Linked DNA regions of Homo sapiens. The protein of the gene in region 1 interacts with the protein of each later gene in a pairwise test. Each region holds a gene or a part of one and is shown on either strand. Other genes may lie near its edges. The genes, in order: IREB2 and USP53.

The links.
Region 2: the proteins of IREB2 (region 1) and USP53 interact in a two-hybrid assay, tested with the Homo sapiens proteins (one large-scale study listed by BioGRID and IntAct).

The regions. Positions count from the first base shown.
Region 1 is NC_000015.10:78,444,484-78,448,305, forward strand, and holds part of IREB2 (iron-responsive element-binding protein 2), read left to right. Parts: intron 1-3,822. UniProt on the Homo sapiens protein: RNA-binding protein that binds to iron-responsive elements (IRES), which are stem-loop structures found in the 5'-UTR of ferritin, and delta aminolevulinic acid synthase mRNAs, and in the 3'-UTR of transferrin receptor mRNA.
Region 2 is NC_000004.12:119,215,520-119,219,341, reverse strand, and holds part of USP53 (ubiquitin carboxyl-terminal hydrolase 53), read right to left. Parts: intron 1,793-3,822; 5' UTR 1,669-1,792; intron 1-1,668. UniProt on the Homo sapiens protein: Deubiquitinase that mediates 'Lys-63'-linked deubiquitination of tight junction proteins, such as MARVELD2 and LSR, and which is involved in the survival of auditory hair cells and hearing.

The DNA.
Region 1 (3,822 bases):
CTTTCTTTTGTCCTTCCTGTCTGCTTGCCTTTTTAACCACAGTACTGCTTAGTCCTCCAGTAGAGCCGGGACTTAGTGTCCAAATCCTACCTTGCAGCCTTTGGAAGAAAATCCTGTATTTAATTTTTTAGGAGAGTTTTTATCATTTAGAAGAATCACAAAAAGACAAGAACATTGCAGATGGTACAGAAAGTCTCATTTTTATGTGTATACAAAAATATATGTAAATATGCTACTTTTAATAAAAATAAAGTATATGTTGTTTTGTAACCCTTTTTTTCACTTAATATATCATGAACATCTTTCCATGTCATTGAATACAGGTATCCCTTGCTATCTGAATCTACTTGGTTTCTGAGTCAGGGAGCTTGAGTTCAGGTAGAAAGGGATACCTGTACTTCTCTGTGGCTTCTAATAGCTGCACAATATTGCCTGTATGAATGCATTGTGGTTTAGTTAACAGACCTTTGAATATTGAGGCTGATAGTAACTTTTCTCTATTTATAAATAAACTTTGTATGTGCTAATACTTACATTTTTGTGCAAACTTATCATTATATAGAATTGTTGGATTGAAAGTATGTTATTTCCTCCACCCCATCACACGCTTTTATTTTTATACTTTCACTATTTACTGTTGGTTCCAGTCTTTATTTTTTTTTTTTTTTTTTTGAGACAGAGTCTTGCTGTGTTGCCCAGGCTGGAGTGCAGTGGCACAGTCTCAGTTCATTGCGTCCTCCAACTCCTGGGTTCAAGTGATTCTTCTGCCTCAGCCTCTGGAGTAGCTGGGATTACAGGCCCATGCCTTCACACCCTGCTGATTTTTGTATTTTTAGTAGAGACAGGGTTTCGCCATGCTGGCCAGGCTGGTCTCGGAACTCCTGGCCTCAGGTGATCCACCTGCCTTGGCCTCCCAAAGTGTTGAGATTACAGGCATGAACCACTGCACCCGGTCTGGTTCCAGTCTTTACCTTGGACTAAAAAGAACAAAAACTCACTCAAGTAAAAAATAGGTTGCAGTTTCCAGACATCCAAAGACAAAGGAAGAAAGCATAGTCAAGTTTCAGGGAACCAGAATTTCTAAGCCAGAGGCAGTGTTCTGTTTGTCACTTAAAGGCTGCCTGGTTTCCTTATTTTCTGTTTCTTTTTGAATATCCAGTCTTCCATCTCTACAGCCTACTTCACTTACTCATTTTTGTATAATGCCCAATATGGCCACTGCTGACCATTCTTGTATGTTATGACTGGATTACTAACCGGTTAAGAGTGTACCTCTAGGTGACTCTTTTACTTGTTTTGTTTTGTTTGTTTTGTTTTTTCCCTCAGGGTCTTGCTCTGTTGCCCAGGCTGGAGTGTAGTGGTTCGATCATGGCTCACTGCAGCCTGGACCTCCCGGGCTCAAGTGATCCTCTTTCCTCAGTCTCCCAAGTAGTTGGGACTACAAGCACATGCCATCATGCCTGGCTAAATTTTAAATGTTTTGTAGAGACAGGGTCTCCCTACATTGCCTAGGCTGGTCTTGAATCCTGGCTTCAAGTGATCCTTCTGCCTCAGCCTCCCAAAGTGCTGGGGTTACAGGTGTGATCCATTGTATCCAGCTCACCTGTTGTTTTAACCTATTTTGACTGCACTTGTCAGGAGTCTATTGCCGGTCTGGTGATCTTGCTGGTAGAGACACAAATCTGTTCATCTTGTCTTTTATGTGGACTCTTGAAAAGACTGGGTTGGGTAAGCAATGTAACAGTTTGCTTGTAATTTGTACACATAGTACATAACTTTCCAAGGATTACCTTTACCTAACATCATCCTACTAGTCCATGTATAGCCATGTGCTCACCAACCCTCCACATTTCAACTTTGTTTTTATTGCCAATTTCTATTCTAGATTAGGCCCTTTTGGTTCCAAGGAACAGACACTAGCTCGAGTGAAGAAGGATTTATTGTAATGATACAGCGCTCCCCAGGCCAATGAAATGTGGCTGTCTCTCAAGAAAATGGTGGTGGCCCAGAATTAAGGAAGTTGTTTATTATTTTCTCTTAGGAGCTTCAGATTTCTGCCCTGTTCCACTCTTCTGCTTCCTCCACTTCACTATAGACAAGCCTCCTCTGCCTGCTCACTTTGTACATGGCCTCAAATGGCAACCTCAGTCCCTAGCTTAGCTCTTAACACCTTTCCAGTTCAGTCTCTCTGTGTCCTGATTACACATTTCTGAGAGGTGAATCTAATTGCCCCAGTGTCTCCTTTCTCACAAGACTTTTGGTCATCAGCCTACCAGGGGATTGGCTTTTGCGTCGCTGCTGTAGCCAAGGAGGCCACAGGCCACCGAGAACTGTAGCAGTTTGGACAGGCACCATGAAGGACATCTGTTGTATAGTGTTAGCAAAGAATGCCAGTTTACATGCTTACCAGTGAATGAGAAGAATATGTGTTTCTGCACCTTCATCAATAGTAGATATTATTTTTCTTGTTGGCTCAATTTCTGTCAGTGAATGAAGAGAAGAAAAAAAACTTTCTTCTACATTAAATTGGGGGGTTTATTGTGAAGATTTGAAGGAAATAAGGAAATTGAGGGGATCTGAGTGCGTGGTCAGATCAGACTCTTTGTTCCCTTCAGTAGGCATGCATAGAACCCATGATTCTGGCTTAGCTGATTTTCCCTATTTCTGCTTTCCTTTCTTTTTCTTTTCTTTCTTTCTTTTTTTTTTTTTTTGAGACAGGATCTCTCTTTGTTACTCAAGCTGGGGTACAGTGATGCAGTCATAGTTCACTGCATCTTCAACCTCCTGGACTCAGGCAATCCTCCCATCTCAGCCTCCCACTACAAGAAGACACCACTACACCTGGCTAATTTTTTTTTTTTTTTTGAGACGGACTCTTGCTCTGTCACCCAGGCTGGAATGCAGTGGCACCGTCTCGGCTCACTGCAACCTCCGCCTACCAGGTTCAAGCAATTCTCCTGCCTCAGCCTCCTGAGTAGCTGGGATTACAGGTGCGTGCCACCATACCTGGCTGATTTTTGTATTTTTAGTAGAGATGGCATTTCACCATGTTGGCTAGGCTGGTCTCAAACTCCTGACCTCAGATGATCCACCTGCCTCGGCCTCCCAAAGTGCTGGGAGTACAGGCGTGAGCCACCACTCCCGCTCTGATTTTTTTTTTATCTTTTATAGAGACGGGAGTCTCCTGAACTCCTGACCTCAAGCAGTCTTCCTGCCTTGGCCTCCCAGTGTGCTAGGATTACAGGCGTGAGCCACCATGCCCGGCCCATTATTCTGCTTTTCTTTTTCTCTTGGTTCTTTTTTGTTTCCATCTGTTTTCTGCCTTCTCCCTAAGTCAAGTTCAAGGTATCACAGAACGAGGCTGAGGCAGCCTATTGGACATGACATTTGTGCTTGGCGAACTCCCTGTGCCACTGGCCAGACTGTAAATTGGTTGTCTGTTGGAAGGCTGGCTCCAGGTCCCAGCTATTCATGCCAGGATGGCAAGGCTACACAGAGCCCACCAGCAATTGGTATAGAAGGAACTTTTTAGAAAGAGGGCTGTGGTATAGGCATTCTGAGGACGTGCCAGTACAGGTGAAAAAACAAAATCTTATGCAGGAATCTGTTTTGTTTTCTGCTTCCTCAGACTCTCTCAATGGCAATGTATGTATGTATGTATGTATATATTTATTTATTTGAGACAGAGTCTTGCTCTGTCATCCCAGCTGGAGTGCAGTGGCATGATCTCAGCTCACTGTGACCTCTGTCTCCTAAGTTGAAGTGATTCTCGTGCCTCAGCCACCCAAGTAGCTGGGATTACAGGTGCACGCCACCACGCCC
Region 2 (3,822 bases), on another chromosome or scaffold:
ACAGCCACTGCCAGAAGTTAGGAAGGGGCAAGGAAAGATTCTATTCAGAGCCCTCAGTTGGAACCAATCCTGCTGACACCTGGATTTTGGACTTCTAGTTCCAGAACTGTGAGAGAATAAATTTCTGTCATTTAAGCCACCCAGTTTGTGGTTCTTTGTTACAACAGCCCTAGGAAACTAATATAATAGTTGATAAAGCCATGAGACTCTTTGTTCTTTTATGTGTATGGATTTTTTTGATTATCAAACAGTACTTGTTCATTAGATTTCTGAAATACCACAGAAATACTACATAAAGAAAATTAGAAATATCCATAATTCCATATTAGCACAGAATCACTGCAAATATGTTCTTAATAGTACACAGTCCTAGCCATCAAACTGTAAAGTAAAACTTCATATTAACATCTTTTCACTAACAATATAGCACCTCAAAGATACACTGAGGACTTTCTGATGATATGCTACAACTGCTCATCTTACTAGAAGTATTTAAGATTTTATTTTAGATAACTAGATAGCAAACAGAAGAGTTATACCAAGTTGAAGTAATACAAAAAAACTCTTCATCTTCAAGTAGATAGTGTCAGAAAAAAGAAAAAATATATCTTTCATTACAGAAGTAACTGTGTTTATAAAGCTAAAGGATTATAGTAAGGAAGGTATAATTGAAGAATAAATATTCTTTGATGTGTAAAACCATTGTCACTCTAGAAATGGAGGAATTAGAGAAGACTACAGTAGAAAATTTATAAAACACAGAAAATAAAATTAATAAGAAAAAAGACTATAATACTGCCAACAAAAAAACAGTAAGTTTTAAGTAATTTTCAATGTTTCCACTTTTTTGCTCTATTTCTTTGTGTCTAACAAAAAACCGTGCTATATTTCATGTTGCTTTTACCTATTCACTAGTTTCCACTAGTAACTAACTAGCAAAAGACAAGCATACACATGTATCCAGAATATAGGACATGGTCATTAAAGAAAATGGCTTACAGCAGTCTACTTTTAAGACATGATCTCCAGAAGAAAATTATGTCAAGCCAGCAATAACCTAACATTTATTTGCCTTGACAAAGCCCCAGACTGAACTCTTACTTTATCTATACCTTCCTCCCCATCTCAGCCAATGGCAACTTTATCTTTCCAGTTGCTGAGAACAAATATCTTGATGTCATCTTTGACTCCTTTTTCTGTCATATTTCAGGATCTGACCACTTTTCACCACCTCCACTTCAACAATTCTAGTCTTGGCCATCATCACATCTTGTGTGGATTAAAAAAATAGCAGCTTGTCTCCTGGCTTCTACCCTTTACACAGTAACATATAAGTCTATTCTGGAGAGCAGACAGAGATCTTTCTAAAATTAAATCATAATGTCACTATCTGCCCAGCCCCTCATCTAACTACTTGACCTTTGGCTTTCCCATTCCAGCCACATCAGCCTCCTTCTCATTCCTGCACACTATACAAACTTCTGTTCTCTATATTGTTTGCACTGGCCATTCCCCTGCCTGGAATACATTCCCCCCATAACGCCCACATGGCTTTGCCCTCCCTCCCTTCATAATTGCTTTGCCAAAAAAGTCACTTAAATGAGGCCTACACTTATTTAAAATTGCAAACCATCACAATCTCTACCACGCTTTCCAAATTCCTCTTACCTTGTTCTACTTTTTCATTCCTCCTTGGCACTTTTCTCCTTCTAAATATATTATAGAATTGACTGCTTATTCTTTATTGTCTCTTCTCCAAATCCACTTAGAATGTAAAGCAAATCCCAAGCATCTAGAACAGAACACAGTGCATGGTTAAGTTTTCATCAAATATTTATTAAAGGAAGCTCAGGAAACAAAGTAAAATCTCAAACAACAAACCCTTTGGAAAAAACAGTGTTCCTAACAAAGACAACCTAGGCACTAAAGTATAGGACAATTTCCTACCATCTGGCAGGTAGGTCAGTGTCAGTACTACACTGACAAAGGAGGAGCATTATCTCATGCCTATATGGTAGCATCATATAGGAGGAAAAATTTAGGGCTCAATCTGCTCACCTAAGTATGGGGAGGGGCACCATGAGAGGGGCAACAGTTTATTATGCAGGCTGAGGAGTTAAGAAAAAGCCAAAGAATGAGGTATCTGATGGGCAAAGAATACCCTGATGGCTTCTTGACAAGGATGGAATCCATACCCTGATAGTGACCTTATAATTCCCATAGATATTTTATTCCTCCTCTGATATAAAGTTTACAACACATTGCTCAACTACTCAATCATTAAAAATCTATCAGTTTCATCATCTATAATCAAAATCATAGGGCTACTGTGAGAATCATAAACCATGTATAAAATACCTAATAAATGGCCAAAACATAGGCATTCAACGAATGCAGGCTAATTATAATAACATTATCTTCCACGTAAAATGATTTTTAACAATGTCAACAAGGATTTAGAAAAAAGCAGACGCTGTATTATATATTTTATACTCCATTTTGCTATCTTTAAGGAAATACCTTAAACTGATATATTAAACTTAACCATTGCTTTAATTCAGATTAATGAGATCAGATAAATTGTTCAATGAAATATCAATTTCTTAATTTTAAAATTTTAGTAGCTGTTCTTAGTAAATCATAAGCAATTTTGTTACGGAGCTATCCTAGTTTAAGAATATCTAGCATATGAAAAACCTAATTTATAAAATGAATGTTTGGGAATACTTCACATTATAAGTGGATTTTCACCACAGAATTGTTGTAAATATTCATTTACAAAACCTTTCTGGACTAGAAAGGAGAGAAGGAGAAAATGAGTTAAAATGTTAACAGCCAATGGATCAGAAAGAAAGATAAAGTGACTGAAGTAAGTGTCAGCAACAGAGACTTGATTTAGAAATTTTCAACCAAAGTATAAGTTTTCAGAAAAATAACTACTTAATGATTTTTTTTTTTTTTTAGACAGAGTCTCACTCGGTCGCCCAGGATGTAGAGCAACGGCACAATCTCAGCTAACTGCAACCTCCGCCTCTTGGGTTCAAGTGATTCTCCTGCCTCAGCCTCCTTAGTAGCTGGGACCACAGGTGTGCACCACCACGCCTGGCTAATTTTTGTATTTTTTAGTACAGATAGGGTTTCACCATGTTGGCCAGGGTGGTCTCAATCTCCTGGCCTCAAGTGATCCGCCTGCCTCAGCCTCCCAAAGTGCTAGGATTACAGGCGTGAGCCACAGCACCCAGCCAACATTGTCTAATTAACTTTTGACTTTCTAGTGTTTAGCACTATGCCTAGCATACAATAGGAGGTCAATAATGTTTATTCAATACTTCTAACTCAGAAAAGCGCAGCAGTAAAAAACTTCCAAAGGAAGGGTATTTCTTAAAACTTCTTTTTTGTAATATGTGTAAAATTGAAAACTAATGTTATCTTCAAATTAATTCAAAAATACCATGACACCTCAAATAACTGATTTTGTTCATAAAAATAGCTAAGATATTGGAATAAGGTTTATTTTGCAGAAAAAATTCTGATGAACTGCAGAGTATATGAAGCAACTCTTCTGAAGTCTCATGTAAAATCATAATTCTTTAGCCAGATGCAATGGTTTGTAGCCTTTTCTTGTATCATGGACATCTTTGGTGGCCTAATGAAGCCCCCTATGAATAATGTTTGTAAATGAACAAAATAAAATTCATAGCATAAAAAAAAGAAAAAGAAAAAAAAATACTAAGATCACAAAGAAAACCAATTATATTAAAACTCAATTCTAACCACAGACCACAGTTCTAATCATGGGCTTTTGGTTCAACAATTCCTGAT